Homo sapiens: one gene and its partners. The protein of the gene in region 1 interacts with the protein of each later gene in a pairwise test. Each region holds a gene or a part of one and is shown on either strand. Other genes may lie near its edges. The genes, in order: PDCL2, UNC13B and STEEP1.

Region 1 (3,654 bases):
AAAAAAATATAAATCCTCTGTAGAGGAAGATGTCTTTAGTTTAGGCTTTAAGGAATTCCCATCAATAAGTTTTCGAGGACAGAAAGCAGAAATCAGTCAAAGGTAACCAAGCACACAAGGAAATAAGCCACCATGAGACCATGAACCAACAGAAACAGATTTACAGAGATTTTTAGATAACAGAATGATCAGAAATAGGTTATAAAACATCCGTACTGGCTGGGCGCGGTGGCTCATGCCTGTAATACCAGCACTTTGGGAGGCCGAGGTGGGCGGATCACGAGGTCAGGAGATCGAGACCATCCTGGCTAACACGGTGAAACCCCGTCTCTACTAAAAAAATACAAAAAATTAGCCAGGTTTGGTGGCAGGCGCCTGTGGTCCCAGCTACTTGGGAGGCTGAGGCAAGAGAATGGCATGAACCCAGGAGGCAGAGCTTGCAGTGAGCCCAGATCACGCCACTGTACTCCAGCCTGGGCAACAGAGCGAGACTCTCTAAAAAAAAAAAAAGTACTTATAAATACTGAAAACTATAAAACAGACAAATAGAGTAGAATAGAAAGCCTTGAAATAAACCCACACATATTTTCAAAAAATTTTTAACAAGAGTGCCAAGACCATTAAATGGGCAACAGTTAATTTTTTTTCAATAAAGGGTGCTGGGTAAACTGGGTATCCACATGCAAAAGAATGAAGTTGGAACCTTATCTTAGACTTTGTGAATCTGAAATATCTGAAACAGGTTTCAGTTGACTTAGAAAGTTTATTTTGCCAAGGTTAAGGATGTACCCATGACACAGCCTTAAGAGGTCCTGATGACATGCGTCCAGTGTGGTTGGGGTACAGCTTGCATTTCGGGAGACATCATTCAATATGTGTAAGATGTACATTGATTTGGTCTAGTAAGGCAGGACAACTTCAAGAGGGGGCTTTAAGGTCAGAAGTAGATAAGAGAGTCCTTGATCCTTTTGAGTCCTTGATTAGCCTTCCACTGAATACACAATTTAGTCTGGCTCAGTGAGTCTGCACTTTTACATAAACAGTAGAGCAGAGGAAGCAATCAGATATGCATTTGTCTCAGGTGAGTCTGAGAGGGATGACTTTCAGTTCTGTCTGTCCTTTGTCCACAAGGAATTTCCTTTTGGGCAAATTGTGAGGGAGGTGTGTAGCTTGTGTCTTTGTAGCTATTTTATTTAGGAGTAAAATGGGAGGCAGGTTTGCCTGACATAGTTCCCAACTTGACTTTTCCCTTGGCTTAGTGATTTGGGGGTCCTGAGATTTATTTTTCTTTCACAACTGTATACAAAAATTAACTCAAACTGCATCAAAGTCCTATAGCTAAAGGTAGAAATCTCTTAAAAGGAAACATAAGATAGATTCATGACATTGAGTTTGACAATAATTTCTTGGTTATGACACCAAAAGCACAGGTAACAAAAGAAAAAAATAAATTGTACTTTACCAAATTTAAAACATTTTTTTGCGTCAGAGGATATTATCAAGAGAATGAAAAGACAAGTGTTGAGACACAGTGGCTGAAACCTGTAATCCCAGCACTTTGGGAGGCTGAGGCAGGTGGATCATTTGAGGTCAGGAGTTTGAGACCAACCTGGCCAACATGGTGAAACCCAATCTCTACTAAAAATACAAAAATTAGCTGGGTGTGGTGGTGGGCATCTGTAATCTTAGCTACTCAGGAGGCTGAAGCAGGAGAATCGTTTAAACCTAGGAAGAATTCTCAGTGAGCCGAGATTGCTCCACTGCACTCCATCCTGAGCAATAGACTGAGACTTCATCTCAAAAAAAAAAAATTTAAAAAAAACAGAAAAAGAAAAAAGACAACCCACAGAATAGAAAATATTGGCTGATCATATATTTGATAAGAGGATAATATCCAGAAGATATAAAGACTTCCTAAAACTCAACAACAAAAAGACAAACAACCCAATATAAAAATGGGCAAAAGATTTTGCTATAGTTTGAGTGTGTCTGCTCCAAAATTCAGTTGTTTCCAATGTGATAGTATTAGGAGGTGGGGCCTTTAAGAGGTGATTAGGCCATGAAGTCTCCTTCCTTATAAATGGGATTAGATACCCTTATAAAAGGGCTTGCTACAGAGAGTATGTCCCTTTTTTTTTTTTTTTTTTTTTTTTTTTTTTACTATTCTGTCTTTTGCCACGTGAGGACACAGTGTTCCTCTCCTCTGGAAGACACAGTGTTCAAGGTACCATCTTGAAAGAAGAGATCAGACCCTCACTGGACAATGAACTTGACAGTGCCATAATCTTAGATTTCCCAGCCTCCAGAACAGTGAAAAATAAATTTCTGTTCTTTATAATTTACCCAGTCTAAGATATTTTGTTATAGAGTACAAACTGGACTAAGACAAACTTGAATAGACGTTTCTTAAAAGAAGATCTCCAAATAGCCAATAAACACATGAAAAGATGCTTAACATCACTAATAATGAAGGGGATGCAGCTCAAAACCACAGTCTACTTCACACCCACTAGAATGTTTATGATAGAAAAGATGGGCAATAACAAAACTGTTGATAAGGATATAGACAAATTAGAATCCTTTTGCATTGCTGGTGGGAATGTAAAATTGCACAACTGCTGTGGAAAACTGGTAATTTCCTTCCAAATTAAACAGATATCATATGATTCAGTAATTCTCCTTCCAGGTATGTACCCAAAAGAATTGAAAGTAAGGACTTAAACAGATATTTGTATACCCATTTTTATAACAGCTTTATTCCTAATAATGAAAAGTGAAAACTACCCAAATGTCCATTGATGGATGAATAAACAAAATGTGGTATATAGGTACAATGGAATATTATTCAACCTTAAAAAAGAATGGAATTCTGCTACATGCTACAACATAGTCGAACCTTGAAAACATGCTAAGCGAAATAAGCCAGTCACAAAAGGACAACTATTGTATGGTTCCACCTGCATGAAGTACACAGAATAGTCAAATACATGGTAGAAAGTAGAACATGGAACAATGGTTTCCTGGAGTTTGGAAGAGGAGAGAATGAGGGGCTATTATTTAATGAGTACAGTTTTTCTATTACAGAAATGAATAACAGAGGAAATCTTAGAAAATTAACAAACATGTGGAAACTAAACAACATGCTACTGAACAACCAATGGGTCAAAGAAGAAATTAGAAGAGAAAGTTTAAAATATATTGAGAAAAACAAAAATGGAACTACAACAAAACCTATGGAAGGCAGCAGAAGCAGATTTAAGAGGGAAATGCATAGCAATAAATGCCTAAAACAAAAAAGAACAAACTAAGCTTATAGTTATCAGAAGGAAATAAATAACAAAGAGCAGAAATAAATGAAATAAAGACTAGAAAAACAATAGAAAAAATCAAGAAAATCTTTGGTTTTTTGAAAATATAAAATCAACAAAACCTTAGCTATACTAAGAATAAAGAAGACTCAGATAAAATCAGAAACAAAAGAGGAGGCCTTACAGCTGATACCACAGAAATACAAAGCATTGTAAGACATTAATATGAACAGTTACATGCCAATGGATTGGATAACCTAGAAGAAATGGATAAATCCATAGACACATATAGCCTACCAACAGTGGATCAAGAAGAAATACAAAATCTAAACAGACCAATAACAAA
Region 2 (3,654 bases), on another chromosome or scaffold:
GTTTTCTTTGGCATATAATTATACTCAGTTGGACCAAATGCCTCGGTGTCTCAGATCAACATCCTCAATTAGAGGCAGATCCTTCAGCAGCAGGTAATATTTTTCTATGCCTGTTGAAAAGACCAAAGACTCTGCTCTTGTAAGTAAGTTTGACCTGTGATTTCCATGTACTTTTCTTTCTTATTTGTATTTTATTTTCCATATGAACATGTATTACTTGCTTTTTTTTTTTTTTTTGATACAGGGTCTCACTCTGTTGCCCAGGCTGGGGTGCAGTGGCATGATCACGGCTCACTGCAGTCTTGACCTCCCTGGGCTCAGGTGATGCTCTCACCTTAGACTCCTGAGTAGCTGGAACTACAGGCTTTCTTGTAGAGACAGGGTTTTGCTATGTTTCCCAGGGTGGTCTTGAACTCCTGGGCTCAAGCAATCTGCCTGTCTCAGTCTCCTAAAGTGTTGGGATTAACAGGTGTGAGCCACTGTGCCCGACTGCATTTTTAAAACAGAACAAAACAATGTCACTGGTGAATGGTAACAGGACCAAGTTGATTTATATTATGATTTGCCCTTTAAAAAACTCGTTACTGGACAGGTGAGGTGGCTCATGCCTGTAATCCCAGTACTTTGGGAGGCTGAGGCAAGAGAATCACTTGCATCCAGGAGTTTGAGACCAGCCTGGGCAACATAGCAAGACCCCATTCCTACTAAAAAAATATTTAAAAATTAGCTGTGCGTGTTGACGCATGCCGGTAGTCTCAGCTACTTGGGAGGCGAGGCAGGAGGATGGCTTGAGTCCAAGAGATTGAGGGTGTAGTGAGCCATGTTCATGCCACTGCATTCTAGCCTGGGTAACAGAGCCATCTCAAAAAGTTCATGGCTTATCATTAATCATCCATCTAACTAGACACGTTGATTGTGCATTGATTCTACTCTAGGGAAAGTCCAAAAATATATTTCGGTTTACAGCCATTGTGGAAAGTAGGAATGGTAATGATATTAGAGTTTTCAGACATAGGTATAGGTTGGTCAGATACTTCTCATCTCCTTCCCCCATCCTGCCACCCCCTGCTGAATGTTATTGTCATCTGCCTCAGCTAACTCCTTTTTGCTGGGCTTCCATCGATCGTGGTTCTAGTAGTCCCTGCCCTTAGAGCAGAGCTGTGGCTGTGTTCCTTTCACTTAGGGCCTCAGGAAGTTGATTGTGCTTTGTGTGAGCCAGGCAGTGATGGGGGAAAGGACCAATTTGCTCTGCTATGCTATTGTTATAAACTGTTCTGTTCCTTATAAGTAGCGTATTCTGTAATTTAGTTTCTAAAAATGGGGTTTCTGAAAGTTGGGCTCTTTAGGCCAATAAGCTTAATTTTTATCCTATTTACCTGTGCTGTGTATTTCAGACTTTGAGTTTGTTTAAAGTTTGGGCTGTGTATCATTAGTAAATATTTGTTGGATACTTTCTCTGTGCATGTTTATGACACAAATCTGTATTGTAGATAAGAGGCCACGGAATCTAGATAGGTTTTAAAATGTCTGTTATACAGTGTTCTTATATAAACTCAAATAATCCATTAGGATTATTAGGTCTGATTTGGAATAAGCAGAATAAATTAAGTTCTTCCTTGAGTAGGGAAATAACTGCACTGTCTTGTTTTAACATTTATTTTCACATTGTTATTATTACTGTTTTTTTTTTGTTTTGTTTTTGAGATGGAGTCTCGTTCTGTTGCCCAGGTTGGAGTGCAGTGGTGCAATCTCAGCTTACTGCAACCTCTGCCTCCCAGGTTCAAGCGATTCTCCTGACTCAGTCTCCTGAGTAGCTGGGACTACAGGTGTCCACCACCACGCCTAGCTAATTTTTGTATTTTTAGTAGAGATGGGGTTTCACCATGTTGGCCAGGCTGGTCTCTAACTCCTGACCTCAAGTGATCTGCCCACTGCGGCCTCCCAAAGTGTTGGGATTACAGATGTGAGCCACCACGCCCAGCCTTATTTTATGATTAGTTTTTTGAGACTGGATCTTGCTCTGTTGCCCAGGCTGGAGTGCAATGGTGCGAACATGGCTCTCTGCAGCCTCGACCTCCTGGGATCAAGTGATATGCTCATTTCAGCCTTCTGAGTACCTGGGACTACAGGTGTGAACTACCATGCTTGGCTAATTAAAAAAAAATTTTTTTTAGAGATGGGGTCTTGCTATGTTGCCCAGGCTGGTCTTGAACTCTTGGGCTCAAGCAATCCTTCTGCCTCAGCCTCCTAAAATGCTGGGATTATAGTCATGAGCCACTGTGCATTTAAAGCAAGAGTCTTTGAGTTTGGGGGTATTTTATATATACCTTCTCTTTTTTTTTGAGACAGGTTCTTATTCTGTTGCTTAGGCTAGAGTGCCATGGTGCTAATCAGGGCTCACTGCAGCCTCAATCTTGCCAAGCTCAGGTGATTCTTCCACCTCAGCCTCCTGAGTAGCTGGGACTGTATGCTTGTGCAACCATACATGGCTAATTTTTGTATTTTTTGTAGAGACAGGGTTTTGTCACTTTACCCAGGCTAATCTTCAACCTGTGGAGTCAAGTGGTCTGCCCGCCTCAGCCTCCCAAAGTGCTGGGATTACAGGCATGAACCACTGTGCCTGGCTCCTTTTTTTTTGAGATGGAGTCTCATTCTTTTACCCCGGCTGGAATGCAGTGGCTCAATCTTGGCCCACTGTAACCTCCATCTCCCAGGTTCAAGAGATTCTCCTGCCTCAGCCTCCCAAGTAGGTGGGACTACAGGTGCCCGCCACCACGCCCAGCTAATTTTTGTATTTTCAGTAGAGACAGGGTTTCACCATGTTGGCCAGGCTGGTCTCAAACTCCTGACCTCAGGTGACCCACCCGCCTTGGCCTCCCAAAGTGTTGGGATTACAGGTGTGAGCCACCATGCCTGGTCTCAAGTATAGTTTTTTAAAGAAAGAAGTCTCACTCTGTTGCCCAGACTGGAGTGCAGTGATGTGATCATAGCTCACTGTAGCCTCAAACTCCTGGGCTCAAGAGATCCTCCCGTCTCCGTCTCCTAAGTAGTTGGGACTACAAGCATGTGCCACCACACCTGGCTAATTTTTGAAAATTTTTTTGTAGAGATGGGTCTCCCTATGTTGCCCAGGCTGGTGTCGAACTCCTGGCTTCAAGCAGTCCTTCTCTCTGGGACTCCCAAAGTTCTGAGGTGACATGCATGAGCCACTGTTCCCTACCCCAGGCTAGTTTATTTTGATTAACATGTTTGTCAGATTCTTCCACTTGATGTGTGTGGCAGTTAGTTCATTGATTTTCGTTGCTATGTAGTATCTTGTTAGATGCATATACTGTTGTTTATTTATTTAATGTATTTCTTAATCTCATGACAGTGTAGATTAGATTATGTGGGGAGAAATTGGAGGCACTTGAATTATAGCAGGAGTGATTTAGATTAAACATAAATTAAAATTTCTTGATGAAATTTGAACTGCCACAGAAAAGCTGTGAAATTTATTTTTCTATGGCTCTTCAAAAATAAGCCCTATTTCCTTCATTTAAAATTTTATTTATTAATTTTTTTTTGTAGAGATGGGGTCTCACTATGCTGTCCAGGCAGGTCTCAGGTCTCAAACTCCTGGGCTCAAGGCCTCCTCCTGCCTCCGCCTCCCAA
Region 3 (3,654 bases), on another chromosome or scaffold:
GCTGGGATTACAGGCATGCACCACCATGCTCAGCTAATTTTGTATTTTTTTAGTAGAGACAGGGTTTCTCCATGTTGGTCAGGCCGGTCTCAAACTCCCGACCTCAGGTGATCCGCCAGCCTCGGCCTCCCAAAGTGCTGGGATTACAGACGTGAGCAACCGCACCCGGTTAATTTTTGTATTTTTAGGAGAGACGGGGTTTCACCATGTTGGCCAGGCTGGTCTCGAACTCCTGACCTCAGGTGATCCACCTGTCTTGGCTTCCCAAAGTGCTGGGATTACAGGCGTGAGCCACCGTGCCCGGCCAGGGCGGAGACTTTATCTGCTTTGTTGTTTGCTGAATCTTTAGCACAGTGTTAGAACAGTGCCTGCTACCTAGAGGGCCCTCACGTATTTATCGAAGAAATTAATTCTTGGTAAGGAGGTGTGGTGGAAACAGCATGTGCTTTTGAATCACTTAGAGTTGGGTCTGAATTCTTGTTCTGCTTCTTATTAGATGCATGGTATATCTCTTACCCTTTTTAACCTCAGTTCCTTCATCTTTAAAATAGGAACAACAAATCTTTACTTTAACCATTCATTGTGAAGAGTAAATGAGCTGACATGTAAACTGCCTAGTGTTCTCTAACTCCTCTCTTCACCTCCTCTATTCATCTTGAATTACTCTGACCACTTGACTTTCTCTGTGATCCTTTAGGTGCTTAATTTGCATTATATAAATTTTCTTTTTTTTTCTTTTTTTTTTCTTTTGAGAGACGGAGTTTTCCTCTGTTGCTCAGGCAGGAGTGCAGTGGTGTGATCCCAGCTCACTGCAACCCTCTGCCTCCTGGGTTCAAGCGATTCTCCTGCCTCAGCTTCCCAACTAGCTGGGACTACAGGTGTGTGCCACCACGCCCTGCTAATGTTTGTATGTTTTAGTAGAGACGGTTTCGCTATATGTTGGCCAGGCTGGTCTCGAACTTCTGACCTCAGGTGATCCACCTGCCACCTCAGCCTCCCAAAGTGCTGGATTACAAGCGTGAGCCACCGCACCTGGCCCATTATATCAATTTTCAATCTGCTTTACAACTGTACCTAATTTGTTTACTGTGTTTTCATTGTTTTCAGATTAAAATTCCTCCAACTAGGATGGATCATTTGCATACTATATAATCACCCTCTCTCTTCCTTTTTTTTTGTTTTTTGACGGAGTCTCGCTCTGTTGCCCAGGCTGAAGTGCAGTGGCACAATATTGGCTCACTGCAACCTCCACCTCCTGGGTTCAAGCAATTCTCTCGCCTCAGCCTCCCAAGTAGCTGGGCCAGGCTGGTCTTGAACTACTGACCTCAGGTGATCTGCTCGTCTTGACCTCCCAAAGTGCTGGGATTACAGGCATGAGCCACCTCGCCTGGCCTCTTTTTTTTTTTTTTTTGTAAAACAGAGACAGGGTCTTGCTGTGTTGCCCAGGCAGGAGTACAGTGGCTATTCACAGGCACAATCATGGAACACTACAGCATTGCACTCCTGGTCTCAAGCAATCGCCCTGCCTCATTCTTCTGAGTAGCTGGGACTATAGGTGCATGCCACCACGCCCAGCCTCTCTCCTTTTCTTAGCACATACCCACTTTTCCCAGTGCTTCCTTGTAGGCATTCCAGTATGCTTGATTGTGTCTCCTGATTCTAATGCATTATAACACAAACCAAGTGTACTATGATCACAGAAATACTTACAGAAACCTGAATTGCAGTATTGGGAAGGACTTTTGAGATAATATCATCTAACTCATCTTTCAAATGAGGCAAAAGTCTCCAAAGGAGGAAGTGATTTGCCAAAGATCACCAGGGTAGTAAGAGAGCTGGGTCCAAATACCAAGGTCTCCTGATAGCAAGTCATTTTTAGTTGGAACATTCAATAATAGGTTTCAATAAGCATAGTAATTGTAGTAGAAAATTCTAGTGCTAGGGATCCCACTCAAAACTTCTCAGGATATTTTGCAGTGACTCATTTGCTATATTTTGCCATGACTCTAGTGACCAAATCTCTCCATTCCTTCAGACTGCCAGTTAGAGAAATTGCCCATGAGGCCCCGGGACCGGTCCCGTGTGATTGATGCTGCCAAACATGCCCATAAGTTTTGTAACACAGAAGATGAGGAGACTATGTATCTGCGGAGGTAAGAGGTTGATGCTCCCTGTTTAGGATTTCCCTATTGTGTTGGAGTCTGTTTCTGAATAATATAAATATCACATCTATTGTTGAACAGGTCAGTTGGTCCCAATACTTTGACATTTGTGGTGGTTTTCTAACTTCTGTTAATGTAGTAATATCTTTATTGTGCTTTGTTGAAATGGTGCTCACATGTGATTCCATTGCTTTTTTTTTTTAATTGAGATGGAGTCTCACTCACTCTGTTGCTCAGGCTGGAGTGCAGTGGTGTGACCTCGGCTTACCGCAACCTCCACCTCCCAGATTCAAGCAACTCTCTTGCCTCAGCCTCCCCAGTAGCTGGGATGACAGGCGTGCGCCACCACGCCCAGCTAATTTTTGTATTTTTAGTAGAGACGCAGTTTCACCATGTCGGCCAGGCTGGTCTTGAACTCCTGGCCTCAAGTGATTCTCCCTCCTTGGCCTCCCAAAGTGCTGGGATTACAGGCATAAGCCACTGTGCCCGGCCCCTCCATTGCCATTTGATAGCCGTAGTTTGTTTACAATTTACAGGTTTGAATGAGTTCATTCAACCTGTAATCTTGTGGAGCATACCGTGTGCCAGGCACTGAGCTAGGTACTGGATCTGTGAAGATGAATAAGGTATGATTTTTACCATTAAAGAGCTCATGACTTTGAGGGAATGACTCCTATTGTGATAGGAAAAAATACTGGTCTTCTGAACGAAAGGAAAAACAGGTGGGAGTGGGTCATTTGTCCTGAATGGTGGCCAGGAAAGGCTTCAAAAGATGATGGCATTTGTGTTTAGCCTGAACTAGGATTTCACCAAGTAGATGAAGGGAATGAAGAGCATTCCAGGTGGAAGGAATATGGAAGCATTAAAAGCATCAAACATGGTGTGCTTTAGAAACCTGAATTGTCGTTTGTGACTGGAGCACAGGTTACTTTACAGGAACGGCATCATGCATACTAGGGTGAGGACAGAGTAAAGTGCTGAAGTGGACAAGTTTGGCCTTAATCTGTAGGCAATGAAGAGCCATCTCCGTTTTTTTTTTTTTGACGGAGTTTCGCTCTTGTTGCCCAGGCTGGAGTGCAATGGTGTGATCTTGGCTCACTGCAACCTCCGCCTCCCAGGTTCAAGCGATTCTCCTGCCTCAGCGTCCTGAGTAGCTGGGATTTCAGGCACCTGCCACCACGCCTGGCTAATTTTTTGTATTTTTAGTAGAGATGGGATTTCACTATGTTGGCCAGGCTGGTCTCGAACTTCTGGCCTCAGGCGATCCACCTGCCTCTGCCTCCCAAAGTGCTGGGATTAGAGGGGTGAGCCACTGCGCCCGGCCTATCTCTGTTTTTTAAGCAGGGGTGTGATGTGGTTAGCTCTGTTTTAGATTTGGGAGTTTGGTATATATGGGAAATTGAAACCTGGGAAGGGATAAAATTACAGAGTGTGGAGCAAGCAGATAGGACTGAATATTTAAAAGGCAGACAAAAGAATTGGAACAGAACCA

What was found.
Region 2: the proteins of PDCL2 (region 1) and UNC13B interact in a two-hybrid assay, tested with the Homo sapiens proteins (one large-scale study listed by BioGRID).
Region 3: the proteins of PDCL2 (region 1) and STEEP1 interact in a two-hybrid assay, tested with the Homo sapiens proteins (one large-scale study listed by BioGRID).

Annotation. Positions count from the first base shown.
Region 1 is NC_000004.12:55,585,722-55,589,375, reverse strand, and holds part of PDCL2 (phosducin-like protein 2), read left to right. Parts: intron 1-3,654. UniProt on the Homo sapiens protein: Essential for male fertility, spermiogenesis and acrosome formation.
Region 2 is NC_000009.12:35,168,483-35,172,136, forward strand, and holds part of UNC13B (protein unc-13 homolog B), read left to right. Parts: intron 1-3,654. UniProt on the Homo sapiens protein: Plays a role in vesicle maturation during exocytosis as a target of the diacylglycerol second messenger pathway.
Region 3 is NC_000023.11:119,558,767-119,562,420, reverse strand, and holds part of STEEP1 (STING ER exit protein), read left to right. Parts: intron 1-2,035; coding exon 2,036-2,153; intron 2,154-3,654.